Linked DNA regions of Homo sapiens: region 1 is linked to region 2. The links come from fine-mapping of genetic effects on gene expression. A gene starts in region 2. The other region holds a variant in brackets. All regions are shown on one strand. Distances are between the middles of the regions.

Region 1 (5,364 bases), 87 kb after region 2:
CTCGTAAATGTGCTAGTGGCTCTGTTTTCTCTAATGCTTTTTCTTATTTATTTATAAGTGTTGAAAGTAATGGGTTCATGTACCTGATTGCCTTGTTGATCTTGCGTCACTGGGAAGGCTAAGAGCTCCCCTTCTTTTTTTTTTTTTTTCTTTTTTTTTGAGACAGAGTCTCGTGCTGTCGCCCAGGCTGGAGTGCAGTGGCACAGTCTCGGCTCACTGCAAGCTCTGCCTCCCAGGTTCATGCCATTCTCCTGCCTCAGCCTCTTGAGTAGCTGGGACTACAGGTGCCCGCCAACACACCTGGCTAATTTTTTGTACTTTTAGTAGAGATGGGGTGTCACCGTGTTAGCCAGGATGGTCTCGATCTCCTGACCTCGTGATCTGCCCACCTCGGCCTCCCAAAGTGCTGGGATTACAGGCATGAGCCACCACACCCGGCCAAGAGCTCCCCTTCTAATGCTGCTTGCCTAAGACAGGGTCCCATAACTGTAGTATATCCATTGTCTTCTTCCCAGTTTATTGGGGGAGGGGGCTCAGGAAAAACCTCTGTCTCCTCTGTGGCACCTTTACCCAGTAACGGCGGGGCTGAGGGAGGAGGAGGTGGTAAGGTAGGTGATGGTTCCTCTTCGCTTCTCTTTTTAGGCTCTTCTGTGTAGAGCAGGGCCAAAGCAGCCCTAACTAAGGCCCACAACGTTAAAGATGTTACTGGGACCTGTTGCCCTTGTGCATGATGTCATTTAAGATTTCTTCCCACTTGTGGCTGGGCGTGATGGCTCACACCTGTAATCCCAGCACTTTGGGAGGCTGAGGCAGGCGGATCACGAGGTCAAGAGATGGAGACCATCCTGGCAAACACAGTGAAACCCTGTCTCTACTAAAAATACAAAAAATTAGCCGGGCGTGGTGGCGGGCGCCTGTAATCCCAGCTACTTGGGAGGCTGAGGCAGAAGCATGGTGTGAACCCTGGAGGCAGAGCTTGCAGTGAGCCGAGATCGTGCCACTGTACTCTAGCCTGGGGACAGAGCAAGACTCTGTCTCAAAAAAAAAAAGATTTCTTCCAACTTGTTCCCAGAACTCTAGGTCTAGTGTGCCTTCTTCTGGGAACCGTGGGTTATGGAAAACAACAGTTTGCATTAGGTCCCTTAACTGAGCCTCCGAAACGGAGGCTGTGCTAGCTTCAAGCAGCTGTTTCAATACTTTTATGTACTGTTGCTGTTGAGCTGATAACTCAAGTCCCATTGTTACGGGTGGGCCTTTGTTCTTAGAGCTCCCAAGATGGGGCAGGCGGCTCCCAAGATGGCGGCAAGCCTTTTTTTCTCTGACCTGAGGCTCTTGGCCTCATGGATTCCAAGGAATGGAACCTTGGGCCATGCAGTGAGTGTTATAGCTCTATTAGAAGCCATGGGTCATGGAAGAGAATCGTGGAACCCAGCGACTAGCGTTGAGCTCGATTAGGACGAACCTGGGCACTTGGCCGCACAGAAACAATGGCGAGCCTCTAGCCCAAACAGGAATGGCACTGGGTGCCTCGCTGGATCAGAAACGCAGCGGACACCCTGCCAGATCCGAGGGGTGGAAGTCAACAGCGGGTCTGCGACAGTGGCGAACAGCGGGTCTGTGACAGTGGCGAACAGCAGTGGTGGAAGGTGAGCAAAAGCTCAGCTCGAGCCAGAACAAACATGGACCAGAAGAGTGTGCAGTTGCAAGATTTAATAAAGTGAAAACAGAGCTGCTATACAAGGGTAGGGGATCCAAAGGGGGTTGCCCCTCCTTGCTCAAATGCCTGGGGTTTATATCCCAATCATTGTCGCTCCCCCTGTGCTCTCAGATGATAGATGATTTGAGTATTTCTTTACCTCCTGCTTTTAACCTAATTGATATTTTAGTGAGCCTTCTTTACCACCTGATTGGTCGAGTGTGAGCTGAGTTACAAGCCCCGTGTTTAAAGGTGGGTGCAGTCACCTTCCCCAGCTAGGCTTAGGAATTCTTAGTCGGCCTAGGAAATCCAGCTAGTCCTGCCTCTCACCATGATGAAACCCTCTCACCATGATGAAACCCTAGCTTGAACATCATGTCCCATGATGAAACCCTAGCTTGAAAATCCCCTCGAACTTGGAAATCCTGAGTGGGCACCAATTACTTACTGCACGGTCACTTCACTTTCATTTTCAAGGGTTCTGTCGTGATCCATTGCAGCATGTCTCACACGGGGCACCACCTGCCGGGTCTGTCCCACAGACCCTGGCTGACTGACAGATGAAATGAGTACTCAGACACAGGT[A/G]TGCAGTGTAAGAGCAGCTAGGGGTCTGCCTGGCTCTAGTGGCCAAAGTGCAGCAGCCCTGAGAAGCTGGAGCTCCTTGCTTTTATTCAGTGTAGGCACAGTGATGAAAGCCTGGAGCAAACACAATCTGTGGGTAATTAACGTTTATTTCTCCCCTTCCAGGAACGTCTTGCATGGATGATCAAAGATCAGCTCCTGGTCAACATAAATAAGCTAGTTTAAGATACGTTCCCCTACACTCCCTTGTACCTACTCCTTGCCCTCTGCCTCAGGGTTATAGAACAGCTGCCTTCAGCTATTCTCCCCCAGGGCTCTGCAGAACCTTCTGACCTTTTAGAAGGCCTGCATCTTTCCCTATAGTTTCTCCCACCACTCCGACTGATCTCCTACATATAATAATGAATATTTTTTAAATGTGCCTTGTAGAGTTAGTTTAATTACTTTATAATATGCTAAATTATTTGGAATGGCCAGTGTGCCCTAGAGGTTGCCCAGAGGTTTAGAGGCAGGAATCATCAGTAACTGTAGTTATCAGGGAAGGCTTTACTAGGAGGTAGAATGTGAACGAGGCCCAAGAGACAGGTAAGAATTCGATGGGCAAAAAAGGGGCCAGGCAGATGGGAGGTCCATAAGTAAAGGCAAGGAGGCTGACCTGAGCAAAGCTGTAAAGGACTGGGGGCTGGCTCATCTTGTTCTATTTTGAGAAGTAGTGGAAAATACTTAAGGTGGAACCGAGTAAAACAAGCTATTTGTTAGAAGAGTTAAGAATTTGAATTTTATCTGAAAGTATATAAAAGGAATATATGGTCAGTTTTTTCTGGTTTTTTTTTTTTTTTTTTGAGGCAGAGTCTTGCTCTGTCACCCAGGCTGGAGTGCAGTGGCATGATCTCAGCTTACGGCAACCTCCACCTCCTGTGTTCAAGCCATTCTCCTGCCTCAGCCTCCCCAGTAGCTGGGATTATAGGAGCGTACCACCGTGCCCAGCTAATTTTTGTATTTTTAGTAGAGACGGGGTTTCACCATGTTGGCCAGGCTGGTCTTGAACTCCTGACCTCAAATGATCTGCCTGCCTCAGCCTCCCAAAGCGGTGAGATTACAGCGTGAGCCAGCACGCCTGGCTTGGTTAGTTTTTAAAATGTGGAATGACATGATGGTGTACCATTCGACCTGTCACCTGCAAGGTCAGTCATGAATAGTGTGCAAATCTTCAAATTTAGTGACCTGTTTTCTGTCTGCTCAAATAAGGATTTTCCTTGAGGACCGATGCATTTAACCATCTTGTTCTCCTTGACACTCTCCTGCCTTTGATCTTGTGTACTGTTCTCTCTTGATTCTCCTACTACCTCTCAAGTTACTGTTTGTCTCACATATTCCCTCAGCCTTCTCATTGTAGGGACATCACAAAGCTAAGGGTTTTTTGGTGTAGTAATGGACCCTCAAGTTAAGGATGAGAAGGTTTGTGTGTACTACAGCTGGAAAGGTGTTAGGAACCAAGCAAGCAGCTCTAGGGGCCAGCTACTTTGTCTCACACACCACATGGTATGTCCCTTTCCTGGTCTTTCTGCTTCTATCATTCTTCATTCTGGCTGGCTTATTTGCTCACTTATGGTTTACAAACTCTGGCTTACGAATGACATCAGTTTACCATCAACCTGTTCTTCCTCATGGCATCTTTTTAGCTTCAACTAATTGGCATTTCTTTCCATGCTTCTTTGCCTAGAGAGAGAATCTGACCAACACAGTTGATCACTTGTAGGTAGATGACACTGGTTTCTGGTTGGCTCCTATATGGATGGATCATTGGTGAGTCCAGTACCTACTCTGAATCTAATCAGCTTTTATATTGACTTAGGGATGTGTCTATGGCTTCCCCTTTGGCAGGGACTGTAAGCAGGGCAACTCCCTTTAGAGGGGCCTGTGGGATGTCCAAAACAACAACAACACAACAAATACCCCCCCCCCATCCAGACAAACAAAAAAAGTATCTTTTATTGTTAAAGAGGAAATAGGAAATTTAAAAATAAAAGAAATAGAGGGGGCTGTGGGAGAACAGGCATTGCAGAATACATCTCTGCTTTCCTTCTGTATTCTAAGCTTCAATATTTCATGACTTTCTAATCTACACTCATTTCTCTTCAGAGGTTTTGCTTTGCATCTTCTAGCTAACTGTGGAATTAACATATCCACCTGGTTGTCTCTCTGTCACCTCAAAGTTAGCGAGTTTAAAAATGAGGCCAGGCGCAGTGCCTTATGCCGGTAATCCCAACACTTTGGGAAGCCAAGGCTGGCGGATCACTTGAGGTCAGGAGTTCAAGACCAGCCTGGCAAACAAGGTAAAACCCCATCTTTACTAAAAATATAAAAACTAGCCAGGTGTGGTGTCGTGTGCCTGTAATCCCAACTGCTTGGGAGGCTGAGGCAGGAGAATTGCTTGAACCTGGGAAGTGGAGGTTGCAGTTAGCCGAGATCGTGCCACAGCACTCCAGCCTTGGCGACAGAGCAAGGCATCATCTCAAAAAAAAAAAATTAAGTCCCCTTTTTTTTCCAAAACCAGTTCTCACTTTGTTTCGGGTAGCTAGGTATTCTTAGTCTCTAAGATTCCTTTATAATCCTGTTTTCCTCTTTCCTTTCTTTCTATATCTGATTGGTTGCCAACATACCTTGTTTTCTTTTATAAACTTCCTCTTTACTCATGTTGATACTGCCTTTATCCTGGCCTTTTGTGCCACATGCTTGGGTTTGCCACAGTCTCTTTGCTTACCTCCTTGTTGCCTTTATCTCCTTCACCAGCAGCACTTCTCCATGAATGCTGCCAGCGTCATCTTTATGCCCTATTTTATCATGACTATTAACTCTCACTAATATTTCTTTAAAGTTGGTTGTAGATGTTTACTATAAATACTTCTCTGTGACATTAACAGGTGTGGTAAGGTCGTTGTTGACATTGTATTCCCAATAATTTAGGATTTTTTTCTATCTTTGATAAGGAATAATGATAGAGTAGGTAAATTCCAACATTAACAAAAACAAGAAAATAATGAACTAGATTTTGATATACTAACATGGAATGTTCTTCGAGCTAT
Region 2 (5,364 bases):
GGCGCAGGGAGAAGGTGACCACGTGGCTCAATGCCAGTTTATACCTGCTGTCTGGAGCCCAGGCTACCTGCACCTGTTGTCCTAGCTGGGTGGGGAGGTGGTTAGTACCGGCTTCCCTCTTAAAAGTCTCCCAGTTAGGATGACACACGGTCACCCTAAAGAGAGACCCTACAGGGTAGGGGAAGAAAAGTGAATCTAAGGCAGCACCCTTCTCATTCACTTGCTTCTTCCGGCCTTTTCGCCCTCCTGTCTCAGACCTTCCATTCCCTTCTTTTCTTTTTTTTTTTTTTTGAGATGGAGTTTCGCTCTGTCACCCAGGCTGGAGTGTAGTGGCACGATCTCGGCTCACTGCAACCTCCGCCTCCCAGGTTCAAGCAATTCTCCTGCCTCAGCTTCCTGAGTAGCTGGGATTACAGATGTACCTGGAGTGGCAGACAAGCACCACCATGCCCGGCTAATTTTTTGCCTGGATAATTTTTGTATTTTTAGTAGAGACAGGGTTTCACCATGTTGGCCAGGCTGGTCTCGAACTCCTGACCTCAAGTGATCCACCTGCCTTGGCCTGCCAAACTGTTGAGATTACAGGTGTGAGCCACCGCGCCTGGCCCATTCCCTTCTTAAGACTCCTATATTTTCACTGTATTTTCTTTTCTTCTCCTGCCAGGCTTCACCTTCCCACTTCCCTGGGAAAGAACCCACCCCACCCCTACAGACTCAGGAGAGCGGAGTCCATCTGGGCTGCCTGAGTCACCGGGGTGAGCAGCTCCTCCCTGGCCAGGGTGAGCGGGCTGGGTTTGGGCCAGGCTGGGGAAGGGCCTCGGTCAAGTTGGTAGGTGGGGGTCCTGCCTTCTGGTCGCAGCGCTGCCTCTTTCTTGCCGTGTGACCTTAGAGCAAAGCATTTCTGCTCTTGGAGTCTCAGTTTTTTCCTCTGCAGCAGTTGAGGATTGAACCACTGATCTAAAACGTCTCTTCTCGCTGAGAAGTGGTGTTCATCTTGTCGGCTGCCATTTCTCATGGGGTTCGAGCCATAAGATGCCAGGTGTCAGTCACCTCAGAAGAGAGGGTTTTGTTTGTATTTGGTGGGGTTCTTCCGGGGGTACCGAGGCTGAGGACTGATGGATCGAGGCGGGTGGATCACTTGAGTTCGGAGTTCGAGACCAGCCTGGCCAACATGGCGAAACCCTGTCTCTACTAAAAATACAAAAATTAGCCAGGTGAAAAATTAGCCGGGCATGGTGGTGCTTGTCTGTAATCCCAGCTACATATGTAATTCCAGCTACTCAGGAAGCTGAGGCAGGAGAATTGCTTGAACCTGCGGGGCGGAGGTTGCAGTGAGCCGAGATCGTGCCACTACACTCCCGTGAGGGAGCAGCCTAGGGACTAAGGCCCGCTGGCTCCGCGAGATCAGCCAGGCCCGCATCATCCCCCAATTACCTGCAGAGGGCGCCGCAGACACAGAGAGGGCGAGGCCGAGGCCGAGGCCATCTAAGCTTCTGGGAAGGGGGTCCCAAAGGGAGGCCCCGAGCTGGAGTCCAGGGGGCTTGGAAGGAAGAGGTGAGGACAGCAGAAAAGGAAACGCAAATTAAAAGAAGGGAACGAAGGCTGGGCGCGGTGGCTTACGCCTGTAAGTCCAGCACTTTGGGAGGCCGAGTCGGGAGGATCGCTTGAGGTCAGGAGTTCAAGACCAGCCTGGCCAACATGGTGAAACGCCGTCTCTACTAAAAATACAAAAAAATTAGCCAGGAGTGGTGGCAGGTGCCTGTCATCCCAGCTACTCCGCAGGCTGAGGTGGGAGGATCGCTTGAGCCCGGGAGGTGGGGGTTGCAGTGAGCCGAGATCGCGCCACTGCACTCCAGGCTGGGTGATAGAGTGAGACCCAGTCTCAAAAAAAGAGAAGGAAAAGAGAGAAGGGATGGTGGCGGTGGGGGAGGAAGGCGGTTCTTGTAATGATCCGAGAGGAGACCGCAGCACCGGTTACGCCCTCGAACCTCGGCCTCCTCATCTGCAGAATGGACGCAGTCCACACCGCGTGCTGTGGAAGGGTTGGAGCGCCGGTTTACATGACACAGGGCTATCGGCTAAGGGGGCGCTGGGAACGTGGAAGGTGCTCTATGGTGGGGCGCTGTAGGGTGCTCTTGGGCAGTAGGGTTGGAGTCAAATCTGGGTTGAAGTCCAACCTAGGTTGAAGTCCTGGCTGCCACCTGACCTCTGCCCCTCAGTTTGCTCATCAGTAAAATGGGGTTAAGGAGGCTGCCTCGCCCAGCTCCACGGAGCCGGAGGTGATGAAGGTCCTGGAAGAGCAGAATTCAGAACCCGAGCTTTGGGCGGCGGAGCAGGACAGGGCGCGGGTGGGCGCGGCCTCCGGGAGGCCAGCACGAGGGGGAGCGGCGGGGCCCGGACACACCCAGCCAGAAGGAGGAGGCCGACCCCGCGCCGACTCCGCAGATGCCGCTCGGGACTTCGTTGTCCCTCCAGGCGCCCGCCCTGGGGTCCTCCATCACCCGCCGTCACCTGGGCGCGGGGAAGCTGGCGGGAGGGGAGGCGGGGCTTGGCGGCAGCGGCGGGTGGGGGCCGGGGAGCGGGGGCAGGGGCGGGCGGACGGAGCGCGGGGCTGGGGACCCGGGGTCCCAGAAGGGGGCGCGGGGACGGGGTCCGAGGAGAGGGGGCCGGGGCGGGGCAGGGCGGACAGGGCTGGGGGCGGAGGTCCGGGGGTGGGTCCGGCGGCGAGTCCGGGTCGGGGCGGACAGAGCAGGGGGCGGGGGTCCGGGAGGAGGGGGCCGGGGTCCGGGAGGAGGGGGCGGGGCCCGGGGGCGGGGCCGGGGTCGGCGCCCTGCGGGGAGGCCGGCCACGTGACGCCCGCGGCCCGGCGGGGCTGCCAGGCGGCGAGCGCCGCGGCGGCCCCGGGAGGTGGCGGCGGGCGCGAGAGCCTGGGCCGCGCGGGACTGACCGTCGGGGCCCCGGGACGGCGGCCCCGGGGCGCCCATGCCATGGAGAAGCTGGCGGCCGGGCTGGCCGGCCTGCGCTGGAGCATGGGCGCCTTCCCGCTCGACCTCATCGTCAGCCGCTGCCGCCTGCCCACGCTCGCCTGCCTTGGGCCAGGTACCGGGGTCGCTGGAGATGGGGACCGGGGTCCGCGGGGAAATGGTGGGCTCTCCAGCCAGGGGCCAGAGGGATCGTGAGGAGGGTGCGGCACCCGCACCCTCCCAGCTCCCCGGCGTGGGCCCCGAGCGGTTCCTGGCGCGCCTCCCGGGAGACGCGGGGCCCACCCGCCAGGTCCGCCTCCTGGGCCCCGCGGACAAGCACAGGCACAGACACCGGGGACAGGGCCCGGGACAGAGTTTTCCCGCCCAGCTGGAGTCCGGAAAGGGGCCGAGCCCCTGCTCCCGCCCCGTCGGTTGCCCCCCTTTCCCCCGCTGCCCCTGGGCCCCCCGCCCCGGCCGCGCCCCCTTGGTCCCTTTGTCCCTGGCCTCTCACCTCTGTCTTCCCTCATCCCTGGGACCCGGACTCTGTCTTCCCCTTACCGCCACCCCTAGTCCTGCTCCGCCCCTCTGGGGACCCTTCTTGCACCTCCTTTCTCTTCCCTAGGAGCAGCCTCGGTCCTGGGGCGGGCAGGCCACCTTCGGGAGAGGCCGGCGGGAGCCGGGTCTGCTGCCCGGCGTGACCCCCAAACTCCCGGCCCTCCCCCGAATCTTGTCCCACTTCTTAATAGGACCTGGGGCCCCCAGCCGCTCGGCTGATGGAACCACGCATGGGGGCCCGAGAGGGTACGCCCGGAGGCTGCATGGAGCGAGGGGACCGTTTGGGGGGAGGGGGGTGCTGCTTGGTTGGGGGATGGGCGGTAGCCGGGGCTGGCAGCCAGGCCGGGGGTTTTGTGTGTGAGAAGAATAGGGGTTTGGCCCGCGTTGGCACACTCGCTTCCATGAATGCTAATGGGGCCCGCGGCCGCAGGCTCCTCGTCTCCCCGTGGGGCCCGGCAGCCCCTCCTCCGTGGCGGCCAGGAGTGGGCACAGTGGGCGTCAGCTGTCCCGGGAGCAGGCTCATGGGGGAGCATCGGCGCCCCGCCGTCGGGCAGGCCAGCGTCTAGTTCTCTGGCTCGCGGCCGAGTGGTCAGAGTGTGGTACTGTGTCTGCCTGTGAATGGAGGTCGCTGCCCTGGGGTCTTCTGGCCACTTCCCACACATCCTTTTTGGCATCTCCCCTTTCTGGGCAGCTTTTCTGAGCTCCTCGGTCTGCGTAGGGCCTCCTTTGGGCTCCCCGGCCACCTCATGCCAACTCTGGCTTGTCTCCTACTGTGCACCCCATTATAATGGTCAGTCAGTTTATTGTCTTTAGACCTGGCTGTGGGCTCCTTGAGACCAGGCATCCTTGCCCAATAAAGATTATGGATTGAATGAATGGGTGAGTGAATGAACAACTGGTGTGATGGCCCAGCTGTCTGTTGTGTGTGACAGTGTGTGGCTATGGCTGGGTCACCATCAGGGTGTGAATGTCTGGTCAGAATTGTATGGCTTGAAGGGTAGGTCCCTGTGTGCCTGTGCATTTGGGAGGGGCCCCTTGGCCGGAGACTGAGTTATGTTGTTTGGGTGACAAGCATCTGTCACTGTGGGCTATTGTGGTTCAGCTGTTGGTGGTCATGAGCCATGATTACTGCTGTGTGCCCATGTGGCTGTGAAGATGGGGCTAGGACCCAGGACAGCTCTCAGAGGAGGGAGCAGAGTTGGAGGAGAGCTTCTTGGGCCCCCGGAGGTGAGGAGGTACAGGGGAAAGCTTAGACAACACCCCCAACACACACATAGTGGGGGCCAGGCCCTTCCTGTGCGTCTTGAACCGCCCGCCACCCTGCCACACACACACACACACATACACACACACGCCTACCCCACATGTACACATTTTATGGAGCCCCCAGCCATCAGAGTAAACCATTTCCCATTTGATTGGCAGAAATTTTGTAAGTTGTGCCTGAAGGAGAAAGGAAGGAGGTACTCCCTACCCCCACCCTCCCCACCAGCTGCAGCCCGGACACAGCCCCTTCTGCCTCCTGGAAGCTGGGCTGCCCCTCCTGCTCCCCTGGAAACCGTTGCTGGGGTTGGCGCCTCCAGGCCCAGACCCCTCCCAACTCCCAACACCTCTGCCCCAGAGCAGCTTCCCCCAGGCCCCAGGGCTGGGCCTCCCACTCCTGCCTTCTAAACCTGCTCTCTCAACCCCTCCAACCCTCAGCCGTCACCCCTGTAACTGGGAGGATGAGGGGGCGTGGGGAGGGGGTGTCAAGGAGCTGCTTCTCTGAGATGGGGTTGGGGGTTTCTGGGGACTCCCCCCTCTCCTTCGAGGTCCCCTTGACAAGGCAGTGGGTGGCTTCTCTGAG

What was found.
Region 1: its variant is fine-mapped to the expression of GAREM2 in lung (TOPMed, PIP above 0.99). The same link has a PIP of 0.9 or more in whole blood.

What each region holds. Positions count from the first base shown.
Region 1 is chr2:26,256,980-26,262,343 of GRCh38, forward strand. All of the region lies in intron 3 of HADHB (hydroxyacyl-CoA dehydrogenase trifunctional multienzyme complex subunit beta), which reads left to right. Among named protein-coding and RNA genes, the nearest start is that of HADHB, 15 kb to the left of the region's middle. The variant A/G (reference allele first, on the strand shown) is at 2,282.
Region 2 is chr2:26,170,234-26,175,597 of GRCh38, forward strand. GAREM2 (GRB2 associated regulator of MAPK1 subtype 2) reads left to right here and starts at 2,855. Exons shown (of 6, transcript NM_001168241.2): 1 at 2,855-3,099. The coding sequence starts at 2,988. RefSeq lists an enhancer at 5,317-5,364.